Regions from separate parts of the Homo sapiens genome. Here region 2 is linked to region 1. Evidence: fine-mapped QTL for protein levels in blood plasma. A gene starts in region 1. The other region holds a variant in brackets. All regions are shown on one strand. Distances are from middle to middle.

Evidence for each region. A credible set is the group of variants that fine-mapping cannot tell apart. PIP is the chance, under the fine-mapping model, that this variant and not a neighbour inherited with it causes the effect. Protein levels are from antibody-based Olink assays in UK Biobank. Linkage for the fine-mapping came from a reference panel and not from the study's own genotypes, which makes the PIPs less certain.
Region 2: its variant is the best candidate, but not a certain one, in a credible set for the plasma level of the ENPP5 protein (UK Biobank, PIP 0.52).

The regions. Positions count from the first base shown.
Region 1 is chr6:46,168,525-46,173,913 of GRCh38, reverse strand. ENPP5 (ectonucleotide pyrophosphatase/phosphodiesterase family member 5) reads left to right here and starts at 2,934. Exons shown (of 5, transcript NM_001290072.2): 1 at 2,934-3,106; 2 at 3,800-3,861. RefSeq lists a silencer at 2,703-2,762.
Region 2 is chr6:46,141,338-46,146,726 of GRCh38, reverse strand. It overlaps ENPP4 (ectonucleotide pyrophosphatase/phosphodiesterase 4), which reads right to left. Exons shown (of 4, transcript NM_014936.5): 4 at 39-3,451. The coding sequence ends at 3,087. Among named protein-coding and RNA genes, the nearest start is that of ENPP4, 14 kb to the right of the region's middle. The variant C/G (reference allele first, on the strand shown) is at 2,882.

The sequences.
Region 1 (5,389 bases):
ACATCTTGATTTCAGACTTCTGACCTCCAGAACTATGTGAGAATACATTTCTGTTTGTCGTAAGTCACCCAGTTTGTGATAATTTGTTAAGGCAGTCCTAGAACTAAAACACTATGAATACAATTTACAGAATACAACAATACAAATAGGTTTATATTTGACTTATATAAAGCTTTCTGAGGATAAAAGCATAATAATTGCTTCTACAAAATTCATTCTAATTAGTTCAAGCATATCACTAGAAGCCTAATTTATTAATATGCATAAAAATTCTTGGGCTAAGTTTTTGACTATTCTATAATTCAACATTTCACTCATTGGACTGAACTTCTGCTAATGAGTCAAGATTAGTGAAGACCACTGTTTATCATGAATTAAGAGCAGTGCAGAAGCAGAATCCCAGTGGTTCCTATCTATGGCCATTGAATATGTGAGACCCACATTTTGCAGAATGTTCTACAAAGGATTAAAAGATGAACTTTCTTTTAGTTTAGTCATTTGTGGTATAATGTACTGGAATGCACCTTTAAAATTTTTTAATTGTAAAATTATGTGTTTATTTTTCCTATCATGAAGTCTAGTTCTGAAAAACAAGACTTCTGTGGTAGAGCCAGTTCTGGTTGTTTCTTAAAGAACAGATCCCTTTTCAGTTTTAGCACAAAGCTCTTCCAGCCCCTGACGAAGAAAATTGTCCCTCTCTCAACCTGTATTAGACTTCCTTGGGGAGGCAGAGGGATCTCCCTCCCCACCTGACCCCAAAACCTTTGAAAGAAAGAAGTTGGTTATTCTGTTACACTATTATTCAATTAGAATTCCACTAATTTAATAACAGAGAATAAAAGAATAGTTACAGTCAATAGCAGGTTGTGGTTTCTGCTGCTAAAACTTTCTGAAAACCTATTGCAAATAGACAGATACTGAGGCAACAATAAGACAGGAGGGCAGGTGCAGATGTGGGAGCAGGAATCTCATGTTTTACATTCATTCCTCTATACTATGTAAACCAGACTTTCTCCCCATGAACAACATAAGGTAATAGCAAGCCTATCAGGTGAACATTAGATATCATTATATGGACTTCTGGGAGGAATCTGGCAGTCTTATGAGCACTTTTCTGTGTTGTGCACTGTGGTTACCAGCTGTACCATGCCTATTTCACAGGAATAGCTGGTGAATATAATCATAACTTCCATAAAATTTGCAGAGCAAAGCAGGTTGTCATCCAAACAGAGTCCAACAATGTTCAGTGATCCGAACAAAAGTCAGGCCCATTTTCACCACTCCTGCTCTCTGATAAGCGTACATTGTCCTTTGAGTGTTTTGGGAGAGCACAGAGTTGACCTATTCTGGGGGACAAGGACTTACAAGATTGGACCACTCTGTTCCAAGTTTGGGCAATTTCAAAGGACAGGGCTTTGGGGAATTGGAACAACTTGTTCAACTTCATTGTGTTTGGGTCTCACTAAACATAGAAACCAGCCTCCCTCTTAATCCCCATCCCACGTGTTGAAAACCATAAACTCAAGTTACCACGAATAAAAGGCCATGGAAGAGTGCCCAGATGCCCTTCGGGATGGGATGACCCAGTTAGGAGGTAACAATGTTTGGGGTTGAGATTGTCCCTCTATTAGAAGCAGACAGAGAAAAAGCTATGACCAAAATGTTTGCATGGCTTAATTAAATATCAACAGATATCTCTATTCACTTTAAAGCTCCAGCACACCAGACAAGGGATCCGAGCTCCGGGCAGGAGCCAAAACCACCATTGCAGATATGCTCCCAGTTTTACCAGCTAATTAGATGTTAAACTTACATTGTAACAATCAACCTGATATTATTGCCTACTGCAGATAGAACTAGAATTCTAATTAGGTCAGAATTCTAGCTGGGATTGTGTAGATGGACAAATTCTTTCAGGGTAGTTTGATATCACTGCTATAATTTATGGTAAAGACAGTTGGGATCATACTGGCAAACTAAGTACCTGCCTACACTCCCTCAGGCCTAAAAATGCCATTGATTATCCCAAAAAAACTGAGAAAATAATCCACTACAGTACGGAAAAAGACAAAATAGGGGCACTAACACACAAGAAGCACTGAAGGCTTTCTGAAAGAGTAATCAGGCCTGATGTTTGTAGTTTTAATGTTTACTTTGCAAACAAAGGTAGAAACAGAGTCTGGAGCTCGGATGCCACCACCAGAGAGGGTGGCTGTTCAGCCTCTCTCCTGTGCAAATTAACCTAATTCTGAACCTGTCTTGGTTTAATTCGCACAATTTCAGGTGCCATGCTAGGTACACCACAAATATACCTCAGGGACCTCAATTGCAAAAACCTGGACTGCAAACGTTGGGGCTGCAGAGTTGACTAGGTTAATAAATTCTTTCTGAGGTAAAGCAGATAACACCCACTAATAAAAAGAATGAAACTTCATCGTCCCATTGGCATCCTCGGGTGTGCAGGTGTTCCTCAGAGCAAAGCCCATGGTGTGCCCCATCGCCAATTCGTGACAAGGCAGGGGGCGGGGGGCGGGGGAAGGAAAAAAGCCTGGGATAAGAAATCAGAGAATACAAGTCGCTTTTAAACAAAAAACAGTGACTGTTAGAGTACACCCACCATTGGGGTAACACGCAATAATCTCTCAGCATCACTGACTCCAGCACAGCTGGTCCCCTGGAAAAGGCACGTTGCCGGAAGGTTTTGTGTGTGACCAAGCAATTGGCCATCCCACGCCTTCGCCCTACCAGATGGGTCCCTGCCCCCGGGAGTCCCCTCCCCCTCCACCCTCCAAACCCAGGCAGCGCCCGCCCCTGCCCCCGCTGATTGACAGGCCGTGCAGCTACTCCTGGGAGCCTGGCTTTCGGGGGCAACCCAGGCAGAAGTGACTATCTCTGCAGCAGCCAATAGAAGCCAGGAGGCGGGGCGGGGAAGCGGCGCGGTCAGGTGCTCCGCTCCAGAGTTGAGCGCAGGTGAGCTCCTGCGCGTTCCGGGGGCGTTCCTCCAGTCACCCTCCCGCCGTTACCCGCGGCGCGCCCGAGGGAGTCTCCTCCAGACCCTCCCTCCCGTTGCTCCAAACTAATACGGACTGAACGGATCGCTGCGAGGGTGAGTCCAGGGGCGTGGGTGGCTTCCCTCCCGGGAACCCACACTGCTCCTCTGGGTCCCTAAAGCAACGTCCCCTCCTTGCCACTGCACATCTAAGAAGCCCAGGCCTCGGTGGGCGGGATGACTGGGAATTGGGAACATAACCTACGCCGCGACCATTCTGGGTGGCTAGGATGGAATCCTGGTGGAGAAGATGGACACCCCCGCCCTTGACGTCTACCCGAGCTACACAAACCTACTCCTTCTGCACTTTCCCTCTTCCGTTTAATCGGTGCCCCGTCCTTCCTGCTCTCCAAGTCTGTTTGTGGAGGAAGGGTTGGAGGGGAGAAAGAACTGGAAAGTACTCAATGAAATGTGGAGCCAGATCCAGGGATTCCACTGTTTTGTGCAGCATTTTGTGCACGAAAAAAAAAAAAATTCTGATTGTTTTCATTCCCCACCCCCCACCTCTGTTTATTGCTCTGTGTCATGGATGTGATGTTGAGTCTTCTTGCCAAACATTCCTAAGCTTTAGACAACACTTAATCTTTGCTTACTTTTGTTGGTCCCAAGAAAGCAGTTTTCTCCTGCTTACACATGTGCCGAATTAATTTGCTAAGATAGATGAAAATGAGGTGTTCCATGTAGTTTATTTCCTCTGCTTTTAGCCTTAAATTACATTTGGTTGATACTAGCCTTCCTTGTTTTAAAAAGGTGGGAGAGAAAATTAGGGGGAGAAAGGACAGAGAGAGCAACTACCATCCATAGCCAGATAGGTGAGTAAATATATTTGCAGTAACCTATTTGCTATTCCTTGCTGCAACTGTGTTTAATGTTCCTTCCAGAATCAGAGAGAGTATTGCCATCCAAGAAATCGTTTTTAAATATGACATTTGAGCTATCATCTTGAGACCAATACCTAAAACAATTTCAGTTTAAGAAATGTCTAGGTATGGTGAAAACACAGTTTAAAACCAGCAAAACAGAATTTATTGCCCTCAGCGAATACCCACAATGTACATATACCTTGTATTTCTGAAAGCAAAGCAAGCATGCCAAGTAGTTTTTATTTACCTGTACCTATAATACAGCAAGGTGAAACAGGATATATTTTTGAAGTTTAAAAATGTCTTCAGGCCGGCTGCGGTGGCTCATGCCTGTAATCCCAGCACTTTGGGGAGCCGAGAAGGGTGAATCACCTGAGGTCAGCAGTTTTGAGACCAGGCTGGCCAACATGGCGAAACCCTGTCTCTACTGAAAATACAAAAATTAGCTGGGTGTGGTGGCGGGCGCCTGTAGTCCCAGCTACTTGGGAGACTGAGGCAGGAGAATTGCTTGAACACGGAAGGCGGAAGTTGCAGTAAGCTGAGATCGTGCCACCGCACACCAGCTTGGGCAACAGAGTGAGACTCCCTCTCAAAAAAAAAAAAAAAAGAAGTCTTCAGCTTAGGAAGATATCAAAAGGCAGTTTCAAGAGATTTATTTGTACAAGTGTGGTTTGATCTAAGTTTTGGTGGGTTTATAAATACCTTCATGCAGGAATGGGTAGAAAAATGAGAGAACAAAAGATCCCTGCTGGATGTGCACGCCTGATGAAAACTGACAAAATTTACATATCTATTGTTTATCCATACAGCGTCTTATTAGCTTTCTTCAATAGAATGAAAGTATTTTAGAAATATACACAGATTAGGGGAAAAGACCAGCAACCTTGATTCACAGAGCTTTAAACCAGGGAAGTGCTTTTACTACACCTATCAATGATAAGATTAAATTTTGACAAATTTTAACATTAGGAAAGTCAACAACAAATTTCAGAATTATATTTCTGTTAATATTTAGTTTAGAATCTAATTATTTAGTTCAACGAATGCTGTGATTTGATTATTAATAAATGAATGCAGATTACTTTTCAATAAATATATCTGGATGTCACAAATGTTATTTCACTTCAAGAAACCAAATTCATCTATTTTCCTCTCTCTTTAGTAATACATCTTTTGTCTGTGATTAACCAAACATAGGGGTTGAAAATAGAAGTGTGCATATACATATATATATAATATATATGTATATGCACCATTATTCGATTTGCTAATGATACTTCATTGTTGCTAGGTTGCCATAGTTGCTCTAGCCATAATGTTAAGGATGTTCACAGGTATTTGACTATAAAAAAGTTTCTGACCAGAAGTCAAAAGTCTGGATCAACCTGAAAATGTTTCTAAAAGTTTTATGTAAATGATGTCATATTTTAAAATGCTGTTGAAGAGCTCACTTAAATAATTCCTTTGAGGGATATTT
Region 2 (5,389 bases), 27 kb after region 1:
GAAGGTAACAAATGTAAAAATCACCAGTGACACTGAACTTTATATTTAATAATTACAGTAAGAATTTTTTGGTAGATTTTATTCACACACATTTTAAAAATCATGAACAAAGTCATTAATTCTGAACTCAAGTAACAGTCAAAAATATTTTAATTTAAATTAAGGCACTACATACACATTTCTTTAAAGCACACTGATGTTATTTTATTTACACACTATTTTAAGAATTAACAATAAATACACATTTTCCATCTCCTCCTTGTCCTTCATTTATAACTTTATATGTTAACAAGGAAGTAAAACCCTCCAAATAAAAGGAATTAAATGCAATAATCCATAAAGCTTATCAGATATGGGCACAAGAAGGAGACACCCAAAAACAATGTAAAAACATTTTAATCCTTTAATGTTACAAGAATTTATCTATAAATTCTTATGCCATTCCTAGTGGAATAATAATATAAAACCTATACACAAACATTGAAATATGTTTTATTCTATTGCTATTTACCAGAAGAATTGCATATAAATAACAGCAGCAGAACTGTCCCTATGTTATACATGAATGTACTTATTCTGAATTCACTGACTGAATTAAAAACACTTAACTCAAACTTTTCCTATTACCTTGGGGTATTGTTTTCACAAACAAGTAAATGTTTCCTAGAGCCAAATACTTTCTACACCCAGAAAATAGAGCAGCATGTTAGTTATTTAACAAAATACACACCAAAACCTTAATGTGAAAGGCTAGTTTTACTATAAGATTTTTCTCAGTGTACTAAAGGAGTCAATGGCTTTAACAGTGATAATTTTTTAAAAGATACAAATGAATTAACACATAGTTCAATATAATATATGTTTTATTAAATAAATACTATTCTTCTTGTCCCATCAACATATACTTTTTAAATTTTTGCTTAATTTACAATTCGAGTTAATATTTTGAGAACGTAAGGAAAGACAAATAGGTAAATGTCTTGTTGAAAGGGTTAAGATACTGACAGGACATACCTTCCTGTTCCATCCTATATAAAATCCACTCATGAGTTGGATGCCAAGTATAGATTTCTGAAACTCATAACCACCAATCACGATAATGCAATCATTAAAACTCACACCATTGCAAGGACCAAGTATAAAATATTCTGCTACTATTTTAGATACTTCAAAAACATCCACTACTTTAAATGAAAAGCTTTAAATGTGTCAATGCTATTTGCTTTTTAATGGAAATTAAAGTAGAATTTTTCTATTATTCTGTTTCGATCAACTATTAACCTTTAGGATAATTGTTTTATGTGAAAAAAATTAGAAATTTTTTTAAAGCAAAATTAGTACTATTGGTTTTTATTTATTTTACTGTTCTTAATACAGTTAACTTATGACCAACAGCATGGATTATTTATACAGGGTTTGAAAATGCCTCTCAACAACCACAAATACAATAGGCAGCAAATACCAGGCTCAAGAAATTAGCAGTGACTCAATAGGACGCACTGTATGTTTGATGACTGGCACCACTGTTGTTCTTTACCATCACAGATAATCAATATTTAACTGGGCTGCATATTTATTATACTTTTATATTTGTAAAACAGTTACCAAGTTTATTTTATATTGTCAAAACTTTAAAGATCATACTATTAACTGCTTGTCTCACGTACTGATGAATGGTTCTTGAGCCCAATTTTTCCCCTACTAAATATAATCTAGTCTGTCACAACCTAGTTTCTTCATATTAATTTTGATTACTAGAAGGTACCAGCTAGCAAAGGCAGGATGACAGTTCTTCACAATAAACCCTTGGCTCTGAACAAACATGTTAAACAGAGGGATTATTTCTGTGATGCAAATACTGGAGAAAAAAGTGGAGGTAGCACTAAGGCTATTCTGCCACTTAACATATGAATGGTGTGAAAGACCAAAAGATACTAAATTTTGTTTAAAATTTCTTAACTATTCTATAGCCTAAAAAGTAAGGCATAAAGTCCCAAAGATAAATACAAAAATCTCCATTCCTCATTCTGTCCCAGTCAAATTGAGATTTGTATTTGGGTCATAAATTTTTCTGTAGCATTTGGATACCTCAGGTTACAACAAACATGAGAGAGTTAAATGATAAAAGTTAATGAAATTAAGTTATGATTTTAACTTGTGAGTTAGGAGAAAGTAAACAAATATGAAGTGCAAAAATAACCTTTCCTGAGATCTGTGTGCTTCAGGAATGTGGAAGCCTGGCCACAGTCCATCTCTGACCTCCTTATATAGTAAATCACATAATGTCCACACAACCACACACAAACACACTTGCACAGGCACACGCAAACAACTAAGTAACTTACATAAAGGCATTAAGCATAGATAGAGAGAAGAGCACTTGTCTCTCTTTTCTTCTGAATTTTTTAACAATAATCTTTAAGACTAACAGCTTAAGACATAATGGTGACAACTCAGGCTTTTATCAAATGGTCTTTGCTTTTTTTTTCAAATAGGTTTCCTTAAAATATTTCTTCATTTGCTATATCTTTTCTGTCTGCTCCAATTTTATTTACCATCACAGAGCATTTCCTACCTCAAGAGGGTACTTGAGATACAAACTAATTAAAGGTAAATATAAAAATATAGGAAGCTTTTCCTCCCTAATATACAAAATTCACAAATTGCATAAAGATTTCTGTTGTTTTCTTTACAAATATATAAATTTATTAGAAAAACATGCCTACTAAATTTTGGTATATTTTCATTTAAAGATGTATCACATCTTCATCGCAAAATACAAGCAGAGGAAGTATTTTTCTCAAAAGCCATTTTTAGTATTTCTAGTTAGGATTGATGTTACCTAATGATTTCCTACCACAAGATGTTACCTAATGATTTA[C/G]TAACAATTTTACTATGGTCAGCGTTATCTTATTAGCAAATGCACCGAAACAAAACACAAGGAAAACAAAGTAATAATTTTAACATGCTTAGTCTAAGTTCTTTGTCTTTCAAAGTATTCTTTTTCATAGTTACAACACTATTCTTTGGATGTATTCTTAGTTTTGTGATTAATCAAAGACACTTTGTATAAGCCCTAGCACATGTCACCCAATTAAAGGATCATCATCATCTTCTTGTAGCTGAAGTCGAGAAAATGGACGAGGTACAGAAAGTCTATTCTGCATGATTATTATGAGGCATGTTAGCATGGTTAACACCAAGAGTGAACCGATAACAATCGCGATGGCTTCTGGGAGATTAATGCACCACTGGTCAACTAACAAGCACTTAGTATGACCAAAGGTCCCATTATTGGGATGTGGTTTTAATCCCAGGATGTGGCACATCATTGGATAAATATCCACAATGTTAATTGTGCTATGCTTGTAGCCTTTGTGAAATGCAGGTCCGTGGGCAGCTAGAAATGGATGCATACTAGGCAAAGAATTATCATAACCATGGTCACCTACTGAAAAAGAACAAAACAACATCAGTCAATAAGATCAGACTTTTTAGGACAAAATAACTTGCTTCTAGTATATAAACATTCAATTCTTTCAGAAAGGGACTAGAAATAAAAATTTCTATTTCTTCAACTCAGCTATGTTCCATATTTCCCTCTCTCTCTCTCTCTCTCACATACACACACAAACACACACATATGCCCCTTTTCCCAACTGGTCATACCCTCAGACTTTACCACCACTTGTCAACCTGATGTACTTATCTTTCAGCCCGAGTACCAATTACTTCACTTGTCAATCTCAGCACTGTTTGCAAAAGCTCACTGCAAGCAGTACCAGTTATAAAGACAGTGGTCAGGCTGAGGGTTCTGTGTAACTGGGAAGAACAGAAGTGAGTAAGGCCAACAAATGGAGAAAAAGAAAATCTGCAGCCTAACCTATCTCAATTGTTACAGGAGGGATCTTGCGTTGAATGTGTTGTCTAATCTGGTGACTCTATCCCAGTAAAAGTTAGACTTAAAGAAAAGCATATGATAGTCCCTAATACAACTCCAATAATAAATTCCCAATTTTTAGCTTTATTTTAACAAATGTTGCCATTTAACGTACACCCGTTGTATTTAATAAGCTCCCACTTTCATATTAAGTACGGGTGACTGGGTGATGAGTATACTGATATTTGTTATATTATTCTTTGGTGGTATGTTTGAAATATTTCATCATAAAAATAACCAATATGACAAAAAGCAGAATATATAAAGATTTCAATAATATTAAAACACACACACATATATTAGAAAAAAATATATATTTTTCTATATATAATATATAATATATTCTACATATATATGTAGAAAATATATATTATAATTATATGTAATTATATATTATATATAATATATAATATACATTATATATATTATATATATTACATATAATTATATTACATATAATATATATAATATAGATATATATTAGAAAAGAATATATATATGAAAAAAGATTGGATGGGGAGAAATGTCCACAATTAACATTTGCCTATAAATCCATACTGAGGGATTATGGATAGTTTTTGTTCTCTTTCCTATGCTTTTCTATACTTTCGGTTGTCAACAACAAATATGCAACATAACATTGATGTAAATAATATACAAACTTCATTGATTCTGAGTCTGTCCTATGCTTGCCTGATACTTCTAAATTGCTATATATCAGGGAACTGTAAACTACAGCCCATAGCGAAGGTTAGCCCTCCATCCTTTTTGTAAACAGAGTTTCACCGAAGCACACCACTTCAATTTCTTTACAGGTTGTCTATGGCTACTTTTACACAATAAAGGCAGAGTAGAGTAGCTGAGACAGAGACCAGCTGGCCCACAAAGCCTAAACTATTTTCTATTTGGCCCTTTACTAAAAAAGTTTGCTGACCCCTACCATAGACCACAAAATTAGATTTTAAAAAAAGCATTTGAATTGAATATGAAATATGGATAAATAAGCTTCAGTTTGAGGCAAGCCTGTAACTCACCCCTATACATTTTCTCCCCTATATATTTTTTAGGAGAGATTTTGATGTATCTATTTTGTTCACTTGGTGGATTTGTTTGGTTACTTTCTGGTTCTTGCCCAGTGTTCTAAATAGCTGTAGCATTCAGGTAAATGATTTTGTTACTGGGGAAGACTTAGGGTTACTCAGACAAATTTTTTTTAACACACAAAAGAACAAGGATTAGCTAATCTCTCCCCTTTTACTGTTTCTTTACTTCTCTATTTTGTATAAATCAAGAGAATGAATCTTGAAAATTACTGACAGTAATTGCAGTTTTGGAAAGAAAGTAGGACTTTGCCTTCACTCTTAAATTTACTTTCTAATTTAAAGGTGAAATTGTGATTACTGTAAATTGCTATTAAATGAAGACCTGGGAATTATCTGGTTGAAAATT